Regions from separate parts of the Homo sapiens genome. Here region 1 is linked to region 2. The links come from fine-mapping of genetic effects on gene expression. A gene starts in region 2. The other region holds a variant in brackets. All regions are shown on one strand. Distances are between the middles of the regions. Region 1 holds the start of ZFHX2 (zinc finger homeobox 2). Region 2 holds the start of TGM1 (transglutaminase 1).

Evidence for each region.
Region 1: its variant is fine-mapped to the expression of TGM1 in caudate (GTEx, PIP 0.97).

Annotation. Positions count from the first base shown.
Region 1 is chr14:23,540,206-23,555,858 of GRCh38, forward strand. It overlaps ZFHX2 (zinc finger homeobox 2), which reads right to left and starts at 11,560. Exons shown (of 10, transcript NM_033400.3): 1 at 11,138-11,560. It also overlaps a transcript of THTPA not described here. RefSeq lists enhancers at 5,108-5,732, 7,605-8,228, 10,352-11,014, 11,864-11,913, 15,446-15,653 and a silencer at 11,494-11,733. The variant C/T (reference allele first, on the strand shown) is at 8,093.
Region 2 is chr14:24,258,474-24,268,091 of GRCh38, forward strand. TGM1 (transglutaminase 1) reads right to left here and starts at 4,704. Exons shown (of 15, transcript NM_000359.3): 1 at 4,616-4,704; 2 at 3,561-3,881; 3 at 3,222-3,410; 4 at 1,977-2,225; 5 at 1,467-1,585; 6 at 1,231-1,338; 7 at 602-776; 8 at 62-200. The coding sequence starts at 3,879. It overlaps RABGGTA (Rab geranylgeranyltransferase subunit alpha), which reads right to left. Exons shown (of 17, transcript NM_182836.3): 13 at 9,397-9,485; 14 at 9,187-9,303; 15 at 8,303-8,416; 16 at 7,957-8,044; 17 at 7,065-7,290. The coding sequence ends at 7,142. RefSeq lists enhancers at 1-678, 5,179-5,187 and promoters at 3,879-6,879, 3,879-5,632, 3,887-4,082, 4,643-6,309, 4,692-7,209.

The DNA of each region.
Region 1 (15,653 bases), 720 kb before region 2:
GTCTCAGATTCCTGGGCTAAAGCAATCTGCCCGCTTTGGCCTCCCAAACTGCTGGGATTACAGGCATGAGCCACCAAGCCCAACCTTCCTAACAGTTTTGCCTTTCACTTTTCTAATTGTTTAATCTACCCACTTTCCCTTAGAGTCAATTTTAGGACCTTTTTTTAAAAATTCCTCTCTTAAATTGTTGCCTCAGGCATTGCACCCTTCCATACTCACTGTCCTCGCCTTCCTCCCCTTTTTGTCTCAACCTGTTGATTACAAGAGGAGGTGACCATGGAGAGAAGGGGAAGAGAAACAGGAAGGATGAGATGTGTGTACCCCTAGTATGGAGGATTGTTTGGTATAAACAGCAAATAAACTATAACTAGATGAGCTCTATTTTTTAGGGCAATGGAAGAACATGGGCTTTGGATCCACACACAGAGAGCCAGGTTCAATCCTTGCTCCATCACTCACTAGCTGTGCAACTCTGGGAAATTACGTATTGAGCCTTAGTCTCCTTATCTGGGAAAATGGGAATAATGATATTTTCCTTACTCAGTTGTGAAGACCAGATAGGTAACGTGTAAAGTGCATTTGCTGGGTGTTCAATGAGGGTAGTTCTTTTCCTTCTCTCTTTCCTGTCTCCCGTCACAGAGTGGAGCATGGTGTTTGCACAGAGGCTGACAGCTTTCCTTCTGTTCACCCCTTTTTCTTTTTTCTCTCTTTTTTTTTTGAGACAGAGTCTCGCTCTGTCACCCAGGGTGGAGTGCAATGGTGTGATCTCAGCTCACTGCAACCTCCACCTCCCAGGTTCAAGTGATTCTCCCTGCCATAGCCTCCCGAGTAGCTGGGATTACAGGTGCATGCCACCAGGCCTGGCTAATTTTTGTATTTCAGTAGAGACGGGGTTTCACCATGTTGGCCAGGCTGGTCTCGAACTCCTGACCTCAGGTGATCCACCTGCCTTGGCCTCCCCAAGTGCTGGGATTACAGGTGTGAGCCACTGCGCCCGGCCTCTGTTCACCCCTTTCTTGACCAAGACTCATCCTCTAATCTCTGCCCTTTTCAACTGAGGGCAGAATCTTAGATGGACAGGATTTTTTTTTTTTTTTTTTGAGACGGAGTTTCGCTCTTGTTGCCCAGGCTGGAGTACAATGGTGCGATCTTGGCTCACTGCAAACTCCACCCCTGGGTTCAAGCGATTCTCCTGCCTCAGCCTCCCAAGTAGCTGAGACTATAGGCAGGCTCCACCACGCCCAGCTAATTTTGTATTTTTAGTACAGACAGAGCTTCTCCATGTTGGTCAGGCTGGTCTCAAACTCCCAACCTCAGGTGATCTGCCCACCTCGCCCTCCCAAAGTGCTGGGATTACAGGCCTGAGCCACCACACCCGGCCAGGATTTAAATCTAGTCTACTCAGCCATAGAGTTCACTTCTTAGCCCTCTTGATTGCTGGGTCTAGAGAGACCCATTATTCCAGAGCAAAGAGTAGAAATTGTGCCCAGGCTCACATTTGGACAGAAGCAGCTAATAAGTGGATCAAAACTATTCTGGCCTTTCCCTGCATGTCTTCTTTTTTTCTTTTTTCCAAAGATCCTTTCCAAGTCATCCCTGCATTTAAAACTATCATTCTATCATCTCTAAATCTTACCTTCTATATTTAAAAAGAAAACAAACAGTACTTTGATTCTTCCCTTTTAATTCTACCTATCTCTTCTAGACCCTTCCCCTTTTATAAATATTTAAGGAGAGCTTACTTTGTGCAAATAAGTTTTGTCCAAAAGAGAGAGAAAGAACGAGTATGGCAGGGAATGAGACAAGCAGGAAAAGGAGTGTTGTAAAGGGCAAAGAAAGATCGCTAAGGCAGAGAAGAGGAGGGAGGAAGAAGGGAAGGAGAGAGGGAGAGGTAAGGAAGTGAAGAGGAAGATGAAGCTAGGTCTTGATTTGCATATATTGAATCTTTTCCAGGCCTCCCAGCTCTGGCACCAGATTGGGATGGTGGCCTGTCCCCAGTGAGAAGGAGGTGGCAAGGAGGCTGTCTCTTGCACTTTGCAAGATGCTTAAGGTGGGCATGAGTAGATTGGGTGAGGTGTGAGGAGAAAAGGGTAGGCTCAGGAAGAAGATGGGGGTGGTAGGGAGCAGACAGGAGGAGAAGGGAAGCGGTAGGCTGAAACCACACACGTTCACATTTGCATGGATTTGCTGAGGTGTGCTGCAGAGTGTCTGCTACTGATGGGGGTGGGTGTCCAGGAGAGGAGGCATCTCCCTTGATGACTTGGAAAGTGTTGGATGTGTTAGGACAGCAGTGTGGAGCTGCTCTGCTGCACAGATCTATGTGATTTTATAGTACACTGGAGAGACTCACATCCTGCTAGATGTGGTTCTCTCGTTCTACATACCACAGGCTTAGACAACCACGAACCAGCTCGGAACCCTTCTTCTGTATGAGCACTCAGGGAGTTGTCCCCTTAAATTCAGAATCAGGATCCTATCTGATCCTTGCATGGGGGACCGCTGAAGAATTTGGTCTCCCAGAACTTGGTAGGAAAACATTCTTTTTTTTTTTTGGAGATGGTGTCTCTGTTGCCAGGCTGAAGTGCAGTGGTGTGATCTCAGCTCACGGCAATCTCTGTCTCCTGGGTTCAAGCAATTCCCCTGCCTCAGCCTCCCGAGTAGCTGGGATTACAGGCGCGTACCACCACAAGCAGCTAATTTTTTGTATTTTAGTAGAGACAGGGTTTCACCATGTTGTCCAGGATGGTCTCTATCTCCTGACTACCTGACCCGCCCACCTTGGCCTGGGATTACAGGCGTGAGCCACTGCGCCCGGCTGGAAGGAAAACATTCTGAGTGACCGTGTATGTAAATAAGTCTTTCTGGTTATTTTATTCTGTGAACCTGTGTGATGTAATGACTGCATTTAAATAGTATTACAACAAAAACTAATTGTAATAATAGTAAATAGCTAACATCTTTAAATGTTTGCCATGGGCCAGGCACCGTGCTAGGCCCTCGGCAAGTATCACATCACCTAATCCTCCACTTCAATCTGATGCAATAGATGTAGCTATTCATTCCTATTTTACAAACATGGAGACTGATTTAGATGGGTTAAGTAATTTTTAAGATCTCCTGCTTAAAAAGAAGTAGAGTTGAGATTGGAACTCAGGTAGCCTGATGTCAGTACCTCTGCTCTTGGGTTAATTTGTAAGCTTCTGAACTCTGGCTGGTATGCATTTTGAATGAGGTCTTTTGAGTCTGATTGTATTACTCTGTGTGTCACCTTGAGCATATGTGCTATCATGTTCCGCCTGAAGGTGCTAGATGGCTGTCTTCCATTTGGTTTGTTTCTTAGTATAAGATGGACCAGAAGAGGAGCACTGCTTTGCGCAACTCCAGGGTGCGTCATTCACACTGCAGTCCATGCAGGGGCACTGGCCATGCCCTGTGTGAAGGAAGGGAAGGAGCGGGAGGGAGGGAGTGGGAACAGGAGGGAAGGGATAGATAATGGCGGGTAGTGTTCTTTGAATGATATGTGTACCCATTTGTGACAACATCTCTTAAAGTTGAAGGTCTACACATGTGTATCCATATTAGCATATGAACTTCATCAGACAAGCACTCTCCCTCCAACAGAGGGAGACCCTGTCTCAAAAAACAAAAAAAAATAGCCTTTAGAGTCAGACAGACCTGGAATCAAATTCTAGTTCTGTTTCTTAATATGTAAATGACCTCAGGTAAGTTGCGTAAAGTCTCAATTTAGTCTCTTCATATAGAGAATGGGGCAGGCCGGGCACGCGCCTATAATTCCAGCACTTTGGGAGGCCGAGGTGGGTGGATCATTGGAGGTCAGGAGCTTGAGACCAGCCTGGCCAACACGGTGAAACCCTGTCTCTACTAAAAATACAAAAAAAATGAGCCGGGCGTGGTGGCATGCACCTGTAATCCCAGCTACTCAGGAGGCTGAGGCAGAAGAATCGCTTGAACCCGGGAAGCAGAGGTTGTAGTGAGCCGAGATTGCACCACTGCACTCCAGCCTGGGTGACAGAGTGAGACCCTGTCTAAAAACAAACACATCAGAAACAGAAAACAGAAAAAAAAAAAAAAAAAGGGAATGGGGAACTCATGGAGTTGAGTCCATTGAGAGGATCATCATTGAGATTGGCACTTTGGGTGTATCAATAAATGGAAATGGAATAATTATTCATCCATATGCCTTATTTCCTGTGTTGGGGTATGTGTATGTTGTTTTTTGATTGTATGTGGGGCAGCTGGTAACCTGGCTGTAGCCCTGTCCCAGTACTTCTTTGGGGTTGGTGAAGGTGCTTGTTCTCCCTGGCTGGATTTTCCCAGGCCCTCCATGTACACGTGTGTGGGCCCTGTGCTTCCCTTTCAGTAGTAGGGTATCCTGTTCAGTGTGTTGCTGTGAGCCCGTATGTGGTTGGCCCGGCTGGCGCGGGCGTGTTTAGGGTGGTGGTAATTACTGGGATGGCCCAGCCCTAATGAGTGTGATCTCGTTACACTCTCGCTGCCTCTAATGGCGCTAACCTCATTTCACAGCCATTAGAGATGGAGATGAGGCCCCGCCCACTGGCCCTGCCAGCTGCAGCTTTTGCAGCCCTGGCCACGTTCTTTCCCTCCGGCTCGCCATTTCTCCATTCCACTTCTCCTTCTCCCACCTTTTTTTTCTGCTCCTCCTACCAGGTTTCCCTTTCCTGTCCCCCATTGTTCTTTTCCCTGGCCGTTTTTCTGCACCCCTCTCCTCTTTCATTCTCCTTTCATGTCTCCCTTCCCGCTTCTCTCTTCGATTCTGGGCTCCTCTTCTCTTCACTCATCACCCTCCCTTTTTTCTCCTCTAGTCAATTTGTCCTCCACATTGCCATTTCTCCATCCTCTTTTCCTTCCCTCTCCCCCGCCCTTCACGGCTCCAGTTCCTCCCCTCCCCCACATTGCCCTGTCTGGCCAAAGGACAAATCTCAAGGGGAAACCAGCAAAGACAAACAAGGAGCAGTGACTTCATTATCGTCGTTAATTTGCCACTTCAGTTCCTCCCATAAGGGTCAAAGCCAGCACTGCTTGAACTCAGGACTGACACGCAGGCCGAGACCATGGCCTGGCTTTTCAGCCCTACTTCTTACACAACCACTCGTCCGCCCTCCTCAGCTGTCTTCATTTCCCTGCGGAGGGGTCAGGCTTCCTGTTTGCTCTCCAATTTCTTAGTCCTCACAGCCTACTGCACTCCTTCCTTTCTCATTTAAATTGTGGCCATCTCTCTGTGCTCTCTCCCATCTCCAAGTCATGGGTTTTTCACCTTTGACTCCTATCTCTGTCATACTCTCTCCCAACTTCTCCCTGCCTAATCTTTCCAGAACCTCTTTCTCATCCTTCCCTGGCCTTCTCTCTAATTTCAAGTGCACTTCTTTCCCTAAAGCAGCAGGATTTATCTGTAGGTTTGTGGAAACCACATAGCCTGAAGAAGCTGGAGATGAGAAGAAAGGCATCTGTGGCCCAAGCAGACCACTGATACAGAACACAGAGATGGCTGGGGGGAAATGCAGACAACTGTGATGGAGGCAAGAGAAGCAGCAAAATCTAGACCCATGCCCATGGCCCAGGAATAAAGAAGACAGAGGCTTGAGATTAGGGAAAGAAAAGGGCATCACAAAACAAGGAATGAAAAATCTGAGGATGGAAATGGCGTTTACCCCATCAGGTCCTCGGGGAAACACAATCTAACACTCTTGGCCCACCCTCTGCCCTCCTTCACTGAGAAGCCAAATGACTGGTAATTGACTCTTGACCTCTAGCCCAAGCCCAGCCCCAAAGGGAGAGGTCCAGGGCAGTTAGCTATGACTGGAGGAGGCACTAGGGAAATGTGCATACATGAAGTTAAATTCCTGCCTACACCCATTCTGCCCCACTGACTTTGCACATCAACGTGCTCCACAGGACCAGACTCTCCATGCATAAACTGCTCTGCAGAGAGGTCTTGCACACCCTGGAACATTCATGTCTTTCTGATTGCACAGGCCCCTGTGCATGCGACATTCCAGTTGATGGTCCTGCTGGGAATTCCAAGGCCTGAACTTTAGCTTTGATGTAATCCTGTGTTCCTGCCAAATACAGAAAGAGGGCTCCTGTTCTCTCATTAGACTTTGGGGTAAAAAATGCTGAGGGGTGCTGAGCATCTCAGTAGAAATTAGAAAAATATATCTTCCTCCAGGTGTATGCAGCCCCCATGCCAGTGGTACAGCTTGGTGACAGGACTGTGGGTGGACCTCAGCCCTGTCACCCCTTAACAACTGCACATGAGGACCCTGGTCTCTGGACTAGTTCCTACATGAGGAAGCCACTGAGAGCCCATGGGATTACCCTACGGGGCTGGAAGTTACTTCTAAATCTTTCACCCCTGCCTTGCCAGCCTGGGGAGGAGGGATGGGCAGGCAGTTCCCTAGGACTTTCCCCAGAGAGGCAAGGGGCTCTGGGAAAGTGGGTGGTGGGCTGACCGAGCTTAGTGTGAGGAGCTCGAGAAGAAAGATGGAAAAATCAATGAAATGAGTTTCTAACGGTGAGGTAAAGGACCACTGTGTCGACAGCCTGTCGCTTGCTGCAAAATATGAGCTGCCCAACTCCGTGGCGGTGGCTGACAGTGCAACAGCCACCACTGTCCTTCCTTCAGGCCCCCCGCCCACCAGCCCCTTCTTTAGCTGCCCTGGCCTTGCTTATTATAGCCAGACTGTCCTCCAGCACTCCCAGCTCTCTCCCCTGTCTTCTTTTGTAGATTTCTCAACCCATTCAGGGGCTTTTTGGCCCTTCACCTCGTGATTCCTGATTGGGTGCATGTTTGTTTTCTATAGCTTCTGTGTATTTAGACCTCCTCTTTCTGCAGATTTTGCTCTGAGAGTTGTGGTGAGTTTTACATCTCTTGCCTCCCCCTCTTCTAGATACCTCTGGAGTCTTTCAACAATGGAGAGTCAGATGTCAAGGCCATCCCTCACAGGGTTCTTTACATCAAGATCTGGGCAGCAGTAACTTCTCCCTCCTTTGGCCTTTTGGCCCACATGGCCAATGCTGCCTTCGTTGTATTAATAATTACCTGGCTTGGGATAGGTGTTTAGAATGGGTCTGGTATTGATTTATGAACTCCTTATTTGCGGCCATTGTATATATACGGTTATGACCAATTCAATTGTAGTTTCATGATTGGGAATGGGGTGGGGATGCTACTTTTAATTCACATTTGCCAACTCTCTCTTTGGAAACAACTCTCAACCTTTTCTGGAAACCGCCTCCTTTCTCTTCCCTCCTCCACATCTTCCTCTTGGGCTCCTAGGGCTGTTCATTCATGTTTTCCTCCAATTATCACTACAAAGACTCTGCACATGAGCCCTGAGAGTTCCCCTGGCTGCCTCCAAGTGTGACCCTAACCCAGTCTCTCCTGTCTGCCTCAGATCTCACTGTCACTGGTTAACTACCCTCCAGCCATTCCCTCCGGTTTCTGATTTCCCAGTTTGCCCATTAATGTAGACTTAGGTGGGGGGAGTGGGTGAAAATTAGGTGGGCAACTCTTTCCCCCAGCCTCTCCCTACTAATTCAACGTTTGATCAGTAGATATTTATTAAGCCTTTTCTGTGTGACAGACACTGTGCTAGGTGCTGGAAAACAATTGGAAACTAGACAGATGTAGCCACTCCTCAGATGACCATGTGACTAACCCTGAGTCTCTCACCAGACAGCTAAGTCTCTCAGACTAGGGGACTCTGTCCCATTTCCCCCCTTTCTGTACAGCCAAATTCCACTGTGCCCTCTGGCATTTCACAACCCTTCCCTTTTCTCAATCCCTGAATGAGTTTACACTCACACAGCCCCGATCCCTTCCCTCTGCATTCTAGCTTTAGTCTCCATTCCTAAACCCAAAGCCATTACACTTTCAACAACTCTCCTCCCCACTCACAAAGCCCTTCTCCTTTCACATTCTGTAACTGCCATTTCTAGTCCTCCTCTTCCGTCTCTGCCTGCCTTTTGATCCAACCATCCTGACCTCAATGCCCTGTCTTAGGTTCCTTCCTCTTGCTACTGTCAGGCTCTAGCAAACCTCAGGTGCTCA[C/T]AAACAGGAGTTATTTGTGACAACTGTTGTTCTGAGCTGGGAAGAGCTCCAGGGAGGCAAGGTCAAGCTACCAGAGTCAGAAATCCTACCAATTCGACCCAGGCCCTGGCCCGTAGGTGATACAGCACCCCGGCAAAGCAGCAAGTGATTCCTGTATGGGTCTCAAGGTAACACCAGCTGCCTCTGACATCATGGAGGGAGGAACCCTGTCAGGTTGCCAAGGCAATACCAGCAATTTATGACATCAGAGGCTTGAGGTCTTTGGTTCTCAGGGGCTGGGAAGATTCAAGTTCCTCTCAGCTGAAGTTTATGGGAATTCTACTTTTTCATCTCTTTGCTTGTGTTCTGGCTTGGGAATGAAATACAAAGGCCTTTCGTGGGGGTAGTGAGTGATTAGGCCAATGAAATGAATGCTCGTGAGGTTCTCTCTCTCTCTGTCTCTTCCCTGGATATTTCTGCTTTCTCTCCCTCTCTTGGGCATTTCTCTCTTCTGGGGCTTCGCCCAGTGGTATTCCTGCTATTTGTGCTATGCTTTTTTTCCAACCCCCCGGCGCCCCCGCAGTGCTCTCGCTCTCTTCGCATCAGTCACGCTGTGTCCTCCTCACACCAGAGGCATTTGTTTCCTTTGATACCTCATCCTCTCCTCTTTTCCTCCTACCAAGCTCTGTGCAGCTCTGATCTGCCTCAGCACTCCTTCGTTTGCCATCCATTTACCTTCTTTGTACCATACTCTCTTCCCATCTCATCTTGTTCAGCAATTCCTCCCTTCCCCCTCTTTACTACTGTATTAATTTCATAGTGCTTTTTCTGTTGACCTCCACTTTAGGAATATTCTATCATTTCTCTTCCTTTTACCTTCTGTATTGCTATCAACACGTTTTGTTTCATTCTTCCAATTTCTTATTAATCACCCCTTGGTTCCTCCCCTGCCCCCGAGTCCGCATAGATTTTCCTCCCTTCCTTTGCACATCCCTCACGTCATACATTTCTCTACCCCATGTGTTTATTGCACCGACCACCCCTTTCTTTCTTTAATTCTGTTCACCTCTGAAATCGTCCATCTTCTGCCCATGTCTGCCTGCTCCTTTTACCTTTCCAAGCTCCTGAGGTTTGGAAAAACAATGATGGGCTAAAAACTAAGGTAAACTCTCCAGATCCTTTATCCACCCTTACTGTTCTTCAGGCTAAATGAACTTGGCTCCTTACATACGATAGCTTTTATTACACTAATAAACACTGCCTCATTAAAAAAAAATGGTGCTGGATCTAAATATGATAGTAGCAGGGGCCTAGGAAGAAGATGAACTAAAAAGTGAAGAAAAAGCAACTGATATCTAGAATGAACTGAAGGATGGGGGGCAACCAGGCAGGGTGGAGCTTAGAGTCCTAGGGAATGTCCCCTTACAAAATCAAAGTTGACAGTTAACTGACATAATGGCACTGACTGATGGAGGGGTTATATGCCCCTGGAAGCTCATTAAATTTATTTCTTGGCCTGTTTATGTGCCTTCACAAACCATACCCCACACCTCTCCCAGCCCTTTGCTTGCTGGTACTTTCTGCTGCTGGGGTTAAAATGCTGGATAAGAGGAAAAGGGATAAAAGAAACTAGAAACTTAGGGTGATCAAGAAGAAAAGGTAGGAAGAGGGCAGATTATGGGAACAAAGGTGGAAACTCAGAGCTCATGGGAAACAGATGGAAAAAAGGGGTGAAGCAAAATGGGGAAATAAAAAATATACAATGATACAGTGGGGGAAGGGAGTAAAATTAAGTCAGCAGGGAAGAGGTTTTGTTGTGCGAAGCTCCTGGAAAGGCAGATGACACGCATGAGACCAGAAGGTGAGGTTCTGATGAGGGAGACAGGCACATGGCAAAGGGGACAGTCAACAATGCTAGGAAGTTCCAAAGCTTCTCTGGTGATGGTGGAAGAGGAGGCTGTCCTGGCCATGCTGAAGGCACTAGAGGCTTTGGCGAAGACACATTTGCTCCATCATCCCACTCCTCCAGGCCCTGACTGTGACCACCACAATCATGACTGATAAGCAAATTCCAAAGTAGCCTGAAAAGGCCAGAGATATCCAGACAGACTCTGAAGGAGAGGGCATGGAATCCTAGACCGACAGAACAGGCAGCCAAGGCGTGACACATAGTGATAGAGACACACAAGGAGAGGATCACTCAGATGGGAAGGGTCACAAGTGGAGACAGTGACATACAGATCCAGAGATGGATGGGATGGAAGAGACAAGATGAAGAACAGCAAAACCAAAAGTCAGGGACACATGGACAGAGATCAGCGGGGCTACAGGCACAGCGAGGAAGCGTGGTCCTGTGCTTGAAAATGATAGGGCTGCTCAGAGGGGCAGACGAGCGGATGGGGGTGGTAGGATGGGCGTGCAGGACAGACACGCTTCACCTTGAATGGGCTTATGGCCTCCCCTCACCTACTCAACACTTTCAAAAAAAGGAATGGAAAGCCCAACTTCAGCCAAAAACGAACGAAGACTGAGAGTATCCACGTCCCCTCCCACTCCACGCCCCAGCGCGCTAGCCCATCCATCAGCCCGCCGGCCGCGGTTCTCCCATCCCACAGCCGGCGGGGGGCCGCCGAGACCCAGGACCCTCCAGGCTGACAGCTCTGAGCCCTCACACTCACCGGGCCTCCCCTTCCCCCCGGGATCCCCGCTCCCTGCCCAACTCGGCGCGGTCCGTCTAGGCTTTCCATACCCTTCGTCTGTCCGGCGGGCCTCTGCCTTTCCCGTTCCCGTTTCTCCCTCCACCCCCGCATCTCTCTTCCCCCATCCTCGCGCACGCCCTCTTCCTCCCACACCCCTGTCTGCTATCTCCCAGGGCTCTCGGTCTGTCTGTCCGTCCGTCCTTGTCCCCTCCCCCAGCCCCTTCCCGTCCCTCTCCGTCCCCTCCAGCGGCAGTCTCCAAGCGCCTCCTCTCCCGTCTCGAGCTTCCAAAGAGCAAGGAAGGGAAGAAGAGAGAGAGGGAGAGGAGAAAAAAACCAACCCAGCAGCATCGGAAATCGATGCACTTACACCTCAGCTGGAAGCAGGGACGGGAGTCGAACCGCGGCCACCGAGCAGCGCGAGGCGGGGAGGGGAGGGGGCGGCTCTTGGAAGGGACTTCTCCGATGTGTTGATTCCTCTTTTTTCCCCTCCTCCTCCCTCCCTCCAGCGCTCGCTCCGGGGCGTCAGGGACGGAGACGGAAAAAAATAAATAAATAAATTCACGGCGGTGAGGGAAGTGAAGGAAAATAATCAATGCTATTTGGCTGCGGCTGAAGTGTTTCCCCGGCTTCGTGAGGGGGTTTCCATTGATTCACCCTGGGCACTCGCTCGCTCCCTGCCTCCTCCTCCTCCTCCTCCTTCTCCTCCTCGCCCTCCTCCTCCTCCTCCTCCTCGCCCTCACTCCTCCGCCTCATTCACTGGCTGGAGTCTAGGCGTCCCACACAATGGAATAATCAATACCCAGGCGCCCGGGGCTGCCCCACTGAGCAGGTGCAGCGACCCGCCCGCCGCGGCGCATGCCGGGAGTTGTAGTCTGTTCGCGCCCGCCCGCCTGCCTCGCGGGACCCAGGGCCGGGGGCAGGCCGGCCAGCCCACCAGGTCGCCTCCAGGTTCAAGCCGGTGCCTGCAAAGAGGGCAGGCCCCTTTAAACTCTTTTCCGTCTCCTCTCCTCTTCATCCTGTGGCCTGCAGAAACCATACATGTGTTTTGTTGTTTTGTTTTAAATCAGCTTCAGAACAAGCCCTGAGCCGCCCAAGGCCTCCTTTTTTCATTCTCTTCTTCCTGCCTTATTATTCCGCCTCCCCCATCTCCCCCCGCGAAATTGGGTACTAGAACCTTCTCTACCGCAGCAATTACTCTTTAGTCTCTGAGAGCTTCTGCCTCCTCCACACGGTTACATAGTCCCCTGAGCTGGGTTGGGGGAGGTTCGGGCTCCTCCTCATCTTCAGTTTATCGCTTATTAAGTGCTCCTGAATTTTTTTTTTTTTTTTTTTTCTGGAGACGGAGTCTCACTCAGTCGCCCAGGTTGGAGTGCAGTGGTGCGATCTCGGCTCACTGCAACCTCCACCACCGGGTTCAAGCGATTCTCCTACCTCAGCCTCCTAAGTAGCTGGGATTACAGGCATGCATCAACACACCCAGCTAATTTTTGTATTTTTAGTAGAGACGGGGTTTCACCACGTTGGTCAAGCTGGTCTCGAACTCCTGACCTTGTGATCCGCCTGCCTCGGCCTCCCAAAGTGCTGGGATTACAGGTGTGAACCACCACCGCGCCCAGCCCGTTTTTTTGTTTGTTTGTTTTTTTCTTGAGACAGAGTCACTCTGTCGCCCAGGCTGCAGTGCAGTGGCATGATCCCGGCTCACTGCAACCTTCACCTCCCAGGTTCAAGTGATTCTCCTGCCTCAGCCTCCCAAGTAGCTGGGATTGTAGGTGCCCACCACCATGCCCTGCTAATTTTGTATTTTTAGTAGAGACGGGGGTTTCACCATCTTAGCCAGGCTGGTCTCGAACTCCTGACCTCAGGTGATCCACCGGCCTCAGCCTCCCAAAGTCCTGGGATTATAGGGGTGATCCACCTCACCCGGCCGCTCCTGTATTCTAATAATAATTTTTAAGATTTCTTGAATGCACAGGGACAGTTCCAAGCACTTTTACATACATTGTTTACTCCTCTCAATACCTCAAGCATGAGGTAGATGCTATTATAGTCTCATTTATTGAGGAAACTAAGGCACAAACAAGTGAATTAACAGGCCCAAGGTCCAATGGCCAATAAGTAAGTGACAGTGCCAGGACTCAAAAACCTCCATGGTCTGGCTCCAGGGCCCATACTAACTGCTATAGCCTACTTCTCTTAAACAACACAACAAAACCCTGAAGTTCACATGACAAAAAGGAGAGATAAATGAACATTTTGAGTTTATACTATGTGACAGTTTATGACTGAATCCTCACAGGTAACTGTGAGGCAGGCCACATTTTCTCAATGAAAAAGCAGAGGCTGGCCGGGCATGGTGGCTCACTCCTGTAATCCCAGCACTTTGGGAGGCTGAGGTGGGTAGATCACCTGAGGTCAGGAGTTCGAGACCAGCCTGACCAACATGGTGAAACCCTGTCTCTACTAAAAATACAAAATTAGCTGGGCGTGGTGGTGGGCACCTGTAATCCCAGCTACTCGGGAGGCTGAGGCAGAAGAATCGCTTGAACCCGGGGGGCAGAGGTTGCGGTGAGCCAAGATCACACCATTGCACTCCAGCCTGGGCAACAAGAGTGAAACTCCGTCTCAAAACCAAAAACAGGCCGGGCGTGGTGGCTCACACCTGTAATCCCAGCACTTTGGGAGGTGGAGGCGGGTGGATCACAAGATCAGGAGATCGAGACCATCCTGACTAACAGGGTAAAACCCCATCTCTACTAAAATTACAAAAAATTAGCCGGGCATGGTGGTGGGCACCTGTAGTCCCATCTACTTGGGAGGCTGAGGCAGGAGAATGGCATGAACCCTGGAGGCGGAGCTTGCAGTGAGCCGAGATGGCGCCACTACACTCCAGCCTGGGCGACAAAGCGAGACTCCGTCTCAAACAAACAAACAAACAAAAATTAGGAGGGTGGGGTGGCACGTGCCTGTAGTCCCAACTACTCAGGAGGCTGAGGCGGGAGAATCATTTGAACCCAGGAGGCAGAGGTTGCAGTGAGCTGAGACGCCAGAGTGAGACTCTGTCTCAAAAAAAAAAAAAAAAAAAAAAAAAAAGCAGATGCTTAGGAAAGTGGAGTAGCTTGCGGAAGGCCAAACATCTAGAAAGTGAAGCTGGGAGTCGACCTCAGGTCTGGCTCCGGAAACTGGTCTTTCTGTTCAAATAAGCTGCTGCTTTTGCCCCACTGGATTGGATCTTATAACATAAGGAAAAATTAGGTCTTCATCCCAGGTTAACAAAACCGGAAAGCAAAAGATGGATGAAAAGCAGGCTTTAGGAGCTGGGGTTTCTTCTCTCCCTAACCAACAGTGCTTAACATGGAGTGGGGACAGAGGTTGACCCAAGCTACTCCAAGTTCAAGATGCCATTTGTTTATTTATTTATGCACAGGGTCTTGCTCTGTTGCCGAGGCTGGAGTGCAGGCAGTAGCAGGATCGTAGCTCACTGCCCTTGACCTCCTGGGCTCAAGCTATCCCGCTGCCTCAACCTCCTGAGCAGCTGGGACCACAGGCATGCACTACCACACCCGGCTAATTAAAATTTTTTTTTTTTTTTTTTTGTAGAAACAGGGTCTTCCTATGTTGCCCAGGCTGGTCTCAAACTCCTGGCCTCAAATGATCCTCCTGCCTCGACCTCCCAAAGTGCTAGGATTACAAGTGTGAGTCAACACACCTGGCCAAAATGCCATGTCTTTAAACCAGTGTCCTTCTCCCTATAATACCTCTCACTGGTCATGTATTTCCAGAAACATACTGGTGAGAGGGCAGGTGTTGAGAACATGGCACTTCTCACCCATCATAGGAAGGAGTCCAGGAGTTAAGAGCCACGGTTCCTCAGGGAGCTTCCTCACATGGAAGGTCAGACATATAGTTAGAGTCTCCAGATAACCATAGTCCTCAGAGGGAGTAAGAAGGAATCATCTCTATTAATATTTTGTCTCCCAAAGCATTCAAAGGGCCAACCCCCATGTTTTCCTGAATTTTATTTTTTTGGGGACAGATGGAGTCTCGTTCTGTCGCCCAGGCTGGAGTGCAGTGGCGCCATCTCAGCTCACTGCAACCTCTGCCTCCCAGGTTCAAGCAATTCTCATGCCTCAGCCTCTGGAGTAGCTGGGAACACAAGCACGCGCCACCATGCCCGGCTCATTTTTGCATTTTTAGTAGAGACGGCGGGCCGGGGGGGTTTCTCCATGTTGGCCAGGCTGGTCTCGAACTCCTGACCTCAGGTGATTCACCTGCCTCGGCTTCCCAAAGTGCTGGGATTGCAGGTGTGAGCAACCGCACCGGCCTTTCTGTATTCTAAATGAACATAAGTAGTTCTACACCTGACAAAAACTGCTTAGGGACCGCTGGAAACTCTGACAAACTCCTCAGTCTAGCACTCAAGGCTTTTCCCTCAACTGCATTTCTAGCCTCGTCTTCTCCTTACGTACCACCCAGGTGCTCTCCAGTTTCTGGGCCTTTGCTTAGGCTATTCCTGTCTCCATCTAGGTCTCCAACTGTTGAAATACCATCATATCTTTAGTTCCTGGCCAAAATACCACTTTATTCTCTGACAGAAAGTTTCTCACCCACTCTTACCCTCAACGTTCATGCCAGGAGGTATTAGATCCCCTCTAAAACTCCAGAGTAGCTAAACTGGACTTTATTACGCGCTGCCCCCGCCCCCTTCCCTCCCCCCACCCCAACCCCCCTCGCCACCATTGCCACTGGCCTGCGCTTAGCTGGCTGCTATAGCAGATATCTGTTGGACGGTGTGAATGGCTTGTATTCCAGGCCCATCTGCCTGCGTTGGGGGTGCGGCGGGGGGTGTTGGAGACGGGACTGGGGCTTGAGCTCCTTGCACCCGA
Region 2 (9,618 bases):
TCCACCTCCAAAGCTCAGGTCACCATTCTTCAGCACAGATGGGCAGTCCACCCCAGCTCACCAGACAGAATCATGGTTCAGGTGCTCCAGGGGCTTCATGTTCTCGTCGAAGTAGATGTCCATGGTAAGGGATGTGTCTGTGTCGTGGGCGGAGTTGAAGTTGGTGACAGTACGGGTGGCCAGACCCAGGCAGCGCAGCACTGTGGAGGAGCGAAGGTTGGGGTTCAAGGCATGGGTTGGGGGCAAGTGAGGCATCGTGTCAGGAGTATCAGGGGGAGAAGGGCAACTAGGATTGCCAAGCTGGGCATAGACTGCCAGGGTCAGGGCCACGGGGGCCACAAGGCCTTTGGGCTACAGAGCACTTGGGGTCAGGGGAAGCTAGGCCACCTGCCTGGCTCAGTCCTTGCCTGTCCCTTCTCCCTCCTTTCCCTTAGGCCTCTCTCTGTTGTTAACACTAATTAATGATAATTAAGGCCAGCCTATTACCCACCCCCGCCTGCACCCTGCACTGTAGCCACATCTGGGCAGGGCTGGGTAAGCCTGGCTTTCCTCCCTTCTCCCTGTAGGGCCCGGGCCACTCCTGTCCCAGTCCCTCCACTACCTGTGGTGGTCACGCCAGCAAAGACCCAGCACTGGCCATAGGGGACGGAATATCCCGTGCGTAGGTAGCTAAGCAGGATCTCCACGCTGCCCACCCACGCTGATGGGTTGGTGCCTCGGGAGTAATCACCAGACCAGTTCCCAATCAGGACTCCATTGTCATCCAGGGAGTTCACCTGCCCAGGACAGGATGAGATAGGGCGGAGGTGGAGGAGGGGCTCAGGACCTGCCATGTGGTCCATGGGGACCAGCCGGGCCCCGATCCTGCAACCACCCCTTACCCCTAAATGCCTCAGGATCCAGACACCAGCCTGAGCTCCACCCAGCCCTTCCCTCAGCCATCTGCCCCCCTCCCACCCGGGCTCTGACACAGGAATGTGAATCCTGGGTGTGCCAAGTTTTGGGTTTGGCCCTACATTCCACAGGAGCTGGGACAGGAGCCAGGAAAGGCGGGGTGGGGGGCAGGCAAGGGAGAGAAGAGGAGGGAGACCCCTTCCTGAAGTATCCTTTACGAGGGCAGGGACAGGGCTGGGGGTTCTTGAGGAATCCAGAAAGGGCAGGAGGAGGGTGGGGGTGTGGCGAGGCAGCAGGCACACACACAGTAGGACTCAGAGATGTGAGGGTGCTCACCATGGCAGAGATGACCCGGGAGACATTGACTGGGTCTCCACGGCCTCCATATGGCATCCCCCGCCGGTCCAGGATGTATAAGCAGGCATCCAGCACCCCGTGGTCAAACTGGAAGGAGGGATGGAGGGCAGAGGTGACAGCCTGAACCCTAGGCCAGCACCCTGCTCCAATACCCCAGCCCCCACACCCACCCCAGCTCCTCTGGGTGTATGTGACCCTGGCCAGCCGCACCATACCTGGCCGTAGTTCCAGGTCCGCTCACCAATCTGTGCTTCGGTCCCGTAGTAAATTCTCCCAGACTCATTAAGAACATACTCCTGCCGCCAATCCTCATGGTCCACGTACACAATGTCCTCTGTGTCCCCAGAACACACAAAACTGGTTCCCTCCAGTTCTCTCCCTGGGCCTCACCTACTTCTGGCCAGTTCTGCAGGACTCATGTCCACAGAAGAAAATGCGGGGATGCCCCTAGCCTGACAGGACTGCTGTGGGAGGACACGGGGAGCATGACAGATGGTGGAGGAGATTGGCTGTAGCCAGGGGCCTTTGCCAGGAGAGGTGTGGCTGGCTGTGTGACCCTGGGCTGGCCACCTTTCTGCACCAGGCCTCGGTCCTCTCATCTGCCCAATGGGAGGCTGGCTTCTCCTGGGGTCAGGCACCTAGGCACCCCGCCACATCCGAGGGCAGGAAGCCCTTCCCTGTCTTTCCCTCCCATCTACCCTCTGCTCCAGACCCCAGCTGCTCACCTGGGCACCAGGGGTTGAAGAGGATGTAGATCTCATTGCGGGGGTCAAAGGGCAACTGGAACTCCCCAGCGTCTGATTGTGTGCGGACTGTGAACTGAAACTTGCCGATGATGGCGTTGGGGGAAGTGTGGACCCGCAGGTTCAGATTCTGCCCACTGGCCTTGACCACCTGGGCTTTCCAGCCTCCACTGCCCCCCTTGCCCACTGGGATGATCACGTGCGTGCCCTTGCCCACCTCGGGGTTGTTTCCTAGAGTAGGAAATCAGCAATTAGCTGGCAAGGCCTCCCTGAGGAGAGGGGATGGAGCCTGGGACTTCTCCCGGCCCCACCCACAATGTGTATGAGCCACTGTGTATGTCCCTACGTTGGGCCATCACCTTATTCTCTGACAGTCTCCCTTAGAGCAGCTCTGTCTCCACCCAATGCTTGCCCACATGTTAGGGCAGTGCCGCAGTCCAACATCCCAAACCTGTTCCCCTGACACTGAACTCTGAGGTGGGGAGGAGAGACGAGGGCTCCTGTCACCTTCTGCCTGCCTGACTATCACAGTGCCTGGGCTGGAGGGGCAGATCCACCTGCCCCGTATGAAAGGGCAGTCCTGATCCTGAAGGCCAACCCTGCCTGCTTCCTGGGGCTGCAGCTTCCAGAGCCCAGGGCATCCCTGGTGGAGGTGGTAGGGGTTCCTGGGAAATTAAAGGATGAGGTGGGCAAGGTTAGGCCCTAATCAAAGGGTAAAAGGAGTCACCTGCCCCAGGCAGCAGCATAATCACCAGCCTGAGAAGTCAAGCTACACCAAGCAACGCGGTAAGGGAGGCACCTGCCTTGGGTCATGGGGACAGAGGGACAGAGACAGAGAGAGACAGAATTGGCAGAGATGGGGGACATGGAAGGCAAGAGGGAGAGAGAGAGATAGAAGAGAGAACCAGCCACATCCTGGGGAATGAGAACAGATGCACAAAGGACAGAGCAGCAATGCCGAAGGAGGCACCGAGGCAGGCCCTGAAGAGGAGTACTCTGAGACCGATGCCCCAGGAGGCTTGAGGAGGATGGGCTTGGGAAAAACTGCAACACCAAGACCCTCTCTGAGACACAACCCCAGGGGCACACCCACACACTTGCACCTGCCTTATCTGGCAGAGGTGAGGAGTGGGGCAGGGAGGAGCCTAAAGACCTCTCTGACCCTAATGCCAGCCTCTCCCCACCAAACATAGGGCCTTCACCCGTCCCAATCCAAGCCCCACTGACCGATGAGTAACTCAAGGGTGATGCGATCAGAGGATTCATAGGTCCGGGACAGGAGGAGGAGCATATGGAAAGGCTGCCCGCGGCGCACTATCAGCTCGTCGTACTCATACTCGTCTGTGTGGTGCTCTCGGCGGTTCTGGTCCGAGCGCGAGCTCAGCAAGTCCACACCGTTCACTACTAGCATGCCCTCTGCAAGGACACAGCTCCGTGTCAGTGAAGCCCCATGAGGAGCCCAGGCCCTTATCATTAGCTTCCTATCCCCCCCAGAAATGCCAGGCTGAGTCTCTGGTCCCATTAAAGCCTTTTAGCTCTCAGCTGAGGAGGACAGACCGGCCTCACCTCGGATGGTGCCATCTCCAGCTGCATTGACACCGCTGCCCCGGGATACAGGCCGGCGGGAGTCTGAGCCCCGGGAGCCAGGTCTTCGAGTGCCAGAGCTGGACCCTCGACCCCTGGAGTCAGAGGGTTCAGGTCCCCAGTCGTCATCTGCCGCATTTCGGCATGAACAGCAGCCACAGCAGCGAGCCCAGAAGGAACGGCCTCCTCCTCTGCGAGAGCGTCCGTCTGGCTCTGGCTCTGGCTCTGGAGATGGCGTGGTAGGGGGCTGCAAGGGGTTGCCACCCCAACGGCCCACATCGGAACGTGGCCCATCCATCATGCCTGTTAGGAAGAGGCAGGGTGGCTCCTTAACCCAGGTAGTCCCAGCCAGTTGACCCAGAAACCCTCCATCCAGACAGCTGATTCAGTCCCACCCGATGACCGAAACAATCCCACCTTGGCCCAGAGATTCTCCAGACACATCCAGAGACCTTCCGCGAAGACCATTCAGACTCACCCAGAGAAGCTTCTCATGCTGCAGAGAAAAGCCTTCCCCTCACCCCCACCAAACAACATCCGAAAAACTGCCCAATGAAGAAACCCACTCAACGATCCATCCCAGGAAATCCACATAGTTCCCTGCATGGACACTTGTCCCAGCCTCAAGACCCAGCTGCACACACATCAGAGTGCTCCAGCATCCCTGGGCCTGGTCCGTCCACCTGCTAGCTCTGCAGTCTAGAGGTGCACAACACTGACAGCTTCTAGAACTCATTTCTTAGCAGAAATCCCCCAACTCAAGGTTCCTCACAAGACAGACAAGTGACCCCGGGGCCTGTGGTCCTTGGCATTCCCAAGTCAGGGAAGACCCCACTTGGGGCTGCCAGGAGGGGTAGGGCATGGCAGGTGCCCGGAGCCTGTGCACAGGGAAAGCAGAGTCTTGGTGTTGGGAACAGCCTAGCTGGGGCTGACAGGTACACAGCTGGCCCACACCCCACCTTGCTGGATCCAGGCACGGCCTCTGATAGTGTGGGCCGCCTGGACTCGGCACCACAGTACCCGTGGGAGCCCCTCACCTGGCAGCAGTGTTGGCAACCGCAGTACTGAGTCCTGGGGCTGAGATGGAACAGGTCAGGATGGATGGGACAGGACCCACAGACTGGATGCCGCAGGGACAGACCTGGTAAGTGACTTATGTGGGAGGGAGGGGCCAAACTGCTGTAGGGGGCGGAGAGAAGAGGCCAGGCCTCTGGGCGGGAAATGGGGAGAAGATGCTAGGGAGGGAGCAGGGGTGAGGTCTGGGGGCTTAGGCTGGGCTTTGGTGGGAGCCACCGCTGTGATGGCCCCTGGCACCAGGCTGATTCCTACCAGACTGGGCATGTGAGGAGCCCCTTCTCCCGGATGAAGAAGCTGCAAGGGCAGTGGGGCAGGCAGGCCCTTCCACCCACAGCCCTGTCTGGCCGACCTTCTGGTCCCAAGCTTAGGCTGCCTACCTCTGCTCTCACAGGCTCCTGCTGCCGAGTTCTGTGCAGCCCAAGCCAGGCTCAGCCCTATGAAATTGGCCCAGGGGCCTGGTCCTGGAACTCATCCTGCCCAGGGAGGTCCTGGGATCCCAGGTTGCAGACTGGTGACATCAGCAGCCAGGCCCTCAGACTGGCTCCACCAGCTAACCCCTGACCTGCTGGCTCTACCAGATATTCTGACTCCCTCCACCCCCAAGTCTGTCCCTTCTTTCTCAGCTGCTCTACAGCCCCAGGCATGAGTGAGCTGCCCTCAAGTTTGGGATTAGGGAGATCAGAGTAGGAGCAATCTCATTTCACGTCCCCCACCCCCGCTGTAGCCTCGGGGGTTAGGGGATGTTTAGGCCTTTCCACTCAGGCTTGGGTGGGAACTGAGTCCCCCTTCCAGGGGTACAGAGTACCTTTCTCTCACTGAGAGGAGTCTCTGCTCAGTTGGACTAGAGGATTCCCTTTTCTCCAACCTGGAATTCTTCCTGGGAATCCAGACCAACCGGCTCAGGCACCTGTGCTGTGTGCATCCTTACTCCACCCCGTCACTGGGGAAACACTGAGGATGGCACCAAGGCGATCCCAAGGTAGAGAGGAGGAGGCTAGGCATCTTCAGGGAGGCTCTCCTTGGGTCTTGTCCTCAGGCCCGTCAGCCAGGGCCTTCTTCCTTCTTTCCTTCCTTCCCACTAGTGTCCCAGCTCTGCCCATGGGCCGCCTAGCAGAAGACAGTAAAAACAGGCCGACAAGAAGACACAAGGAAACAGAATCCAGGAGGGGCTGTTTGGTGATGCATCAGGCAGGGAGGTGCCGTGGGGAGTGGGGACAGAGAGGCCCCAGGAACTGGCAGGGAGCCCTCCACACCCACACTGCCTTTTCTTGTCCAGCTCCAAGCACCAGAACCTGCCCGGGGGTGGGGGCAGGTGCCCCACCTCCAACACCCTCAGTAGACACACCAGTGGATATAAACTTCCAGGCAGGTCAGCCAGAGGGCTTTGTGCAGGGGCTGCGGATTTGTGCATCACTGCAGATACGGGAAGGGGCAGGGCCCTGGCTGTCCGGACGTGTGTGAGCACATGTGGGCCCAGGCAGATCCCAGAGAACCAGTAGGATGCCTTTGTCACACTCTCTCCCTAGCTTTAATCAATCTTTCTCTCCCCACCCAGCCAGGTTTGAGTCAGTGCCCTAACCCCTGAGCCAGTCCCCTCCCCCCACCACCACTCAGGACTCTCTAGGTCAGGACAAGGTGTGTACATGGTATGTGTGGGGGGACACCATGGGAGCAGACACTCAGCTCAGGACCTCAAGGAGCTGAGGCCAGGCCGCTGCCCAACCATTCCTTAGCAATACAGAAGCAAGAACATGAGTCTAGAATCCTAGACCAAGGGTAGAGACAACTTTGGTTTCAGTGCTGAAGCGCTCCGGCCAAGAACCTTGGGCAAGTCTCAACAGCAGTTTCCTCATCAGTACACTGGGCCTAAAAATCTCATCCCTGAGACTCTGTGAGGATCAAATGGTATCAAGTATTCTCAAAGGTACTTCAACCGTAGAATGCTACTCATGGGGACCGATAGTGTTGTTCAGGCAGGACGGAGCAAGGACACCCTGGCCCATTCCTGGGAACGTGGAGCCCTTGAGCCTCCCCAGCTATGGTGAATGGGGGCCAGGGCAGGGGGAACATGTGGAAGGTGCAGGGGTCATGGGAAAAAATTGTATGATGCTTCCAGCTGGAGAAACTCACAGCTGCTCTGTAGCTTACCAGAGCCAGAACCTGAGCCCAAGCCCTATTCCTGCTTGGAATCTAGACCCAGTCCCAGCCCCCACCCCAAACCAGAAGGTAAACAAAAGCTCAGCCTTCACCCTGAATTCTGCCCCAAACACTGAAGCCTTGGCTCTCTCTGAGAGGAAACAATAGGATGGCGCAGAAAGAAGGAGCTGGCAACACCCCATGTCTCTTCCCTTTCTTTTCAAAAAATAAAAGTGATGAAGGTGGTGGTGTAGTGATAGCAGCGACAACAGCTTGGTAGCCTGAGAGGGCCTCTCCATTCTTTATTCAGTCCCAATAAGTTAAAGGGCAAGGGTAGGGGGCAGGGCCTCTTAGGTGAGGACGCTGCTAACTGAAGGCAGCAGTTCAGCCAGTTGCTCCAAGATGCCCACCGCTTGGCACAGCGGGTTACCCTGCAGGTTGAGGAGGACCAGCCTGGGGCAGGAGGCAAGAGGCTGGAGCACTGCAGGCTGCTGGAGGCCTTGTTCAGGAGAGTCAAGGAAAGCTTGGCAGGTTCCTCCCAATTTATTTGCTCCTGTGTACCCTCAAGAGCTGGGGACTGCTGCCTGGAAGTCTGTTTGATGGGCATCTCATATGCTCCCTGGAGGGAGTCAGGCTCTAGGCAGGGACTGCAAATGCCTACCCACAGGGTCAGCCAGGAAAGAATGAGCCGCAACACCCCACGCAAGCTGGTGTAGTATCAGGGGAGTGGTGCAGGGTATGATAAGGTGGAAATCTAGCCTGGTCCAAAGAGACATTTACTATTCAGCAATGACCAAGGGCTGCTGAGTGAAAATACCAGTGTAAGGTTGCTCTAACTTCCAATTTTTAAGAGAGGAATTAGAACTCTAGATGTTTTTTAAAGTATGAAAGTTCCTGATTTTCAAAAAACTACATAGACCTGAAGAACAGCTGCGGGCTGCCCATTTGTGAACTCTGACTTGAGGAAGTCCACTCCGCACAACTCCACCAGTGCAGGTCAGTGATAGCCCGACAGCCCCAGGCTCTCCCCCTTCAACTCACACTACAGAGCCCCCTCTCTCCTGCCCTGCAAGAGGGTGGCACATACCCTGCCTGCTGTCTGTCCCTTCCCAGGGTGGCACCTCACTTTACCCACTGTCTGAAAGGCACCCAGAAGGAAGGATACGGTTGTTGCACAGTAGCAGCTCCTGCAGCCGGGGTAGGTTGGTGACGCCGTCCAGGGACTCTATGGCATTATCACTGGCCTGCAGCACCTGGGGGCAGGGAGGGCAGGGAGGCAGGACAGGCGCTGTCAGCCAGGGATGGTTCAGCAACTGAGGAGCTCAGGGTGACGGGTCCACAGAGCACAGAGGGGCTCACAGGGTCAGGCTGCGTGATGGAGGTGGAAGGCACGCAGTTACCTGTTCGGGGTGGAGGGTCCTGCACATCTCCTTGTAGGATGGGCAGACTTCTGAGGGAGAGGAAGAGGAAAAGAACCACCCGTGACAGGGACGGAGACATGGGTACTTTACCTCAAGGCAGCGCAGGGCAGCCAGTGCAGGTGGCAGGGTTCGGAGGCGATTGTGTGACAAGTCAAGATGGGTGACCAAGAGCAGCTGTTCCAGATGGCAGAGCACTGTCAGATCCTGGGGGGTGAAGGGAGGAAGGAGGTGATGGGCTTCCCAGGAGACCTGGGAGAGGGTCCTCGGCCAGCATTTATTAGGCACATGCCCTCTGTGCCCCACAGGCCCTTGGGGACCCCAGCCAAGAAGAGGATGGGAGCATGTGGGAAGCTGACCTTACAGCCCACAGCAGTACATGACGTGGGACAGACAGTGCTGCGAGTGGGGTAACCAGTGGGGTGGGTGAGGAGGAGGAGGCCTGGAGTTCGGAGGTACAGGGGCCAGTGGAGGGTGCTGGGTAAACAAAGACTGGTCCCCCATGGGGACTGGTCCTGATGAGGCAGAGATGAGTTTGGCAGGAATGGAGGTGGGCTGTGGTGATGTGATAAAACTAATGTGTTGGGAAGGACTAGGAAAGTGGAGCCTGGACAACTTCTCAGGAATCTCTGGAAAGTATTTGGCCTTCAGGTATTGGAGGTTGCTCCAGGGTGAGATGTGCTGGAATGTGTGGGAGGAGTGGGCTAGCGGTCACTCTGAAGGAAGATGAAGCTGTGACCAGCCTGGGGAAGAAACAGCACAAGGAGGTCCTGGTGACTCGGGATTTGAAAGTGAGTGGCAAGAAGAAGAATGGGCTGAGTGACAGAAAGGCCTGGAAGAGGAGCAAGCTGGGAGGCAGGGATGAACTCTATCTTGATTGGAAGTCCACAAAGGCACCTGAGACTGGGGGCAAAGTCAGGGACGTGGGGAGGCCAGCGGGATGAGGGCCAGGGGAAGGCATGCATGGCAGCCCATACCTTGTGAGCCAGGTGCAGCACACGCACCTCGGCATACTCCATCTTGAGCACGCTATTCTCCAGCAAGAACTTGCTGCGCAGGTCATCCAGATACGTTGCCCGCATGGGGTCCACGGCCTGGAGTGGATGAGGTGGGCAGGGTATGCATGTCAGCTGCCTGCCTCCTGCCTGCTGGGCCTCCCCCTGGTCTGTTCTGCAGACAGAACTTGCCTTGAGGGTCTGGAAGTACTGCAGGGTCTCCTTCTCATACAGCAGGGGGTCCAGTGCCCGCATCAGCAGGATGATGGTAAGCAGGCACCCTGAGGAGAGGGCAGGGAAAAGGAGGGTTTCTCTTGGAACCTCCTCTGCTCCCATCCTCCTGAGGCCTTCCTGCTGTCCTCTCAGGGCCACACTGGAAAGGGGTTTCCTCAGCGGGCTCTGGGAGCAGACTCT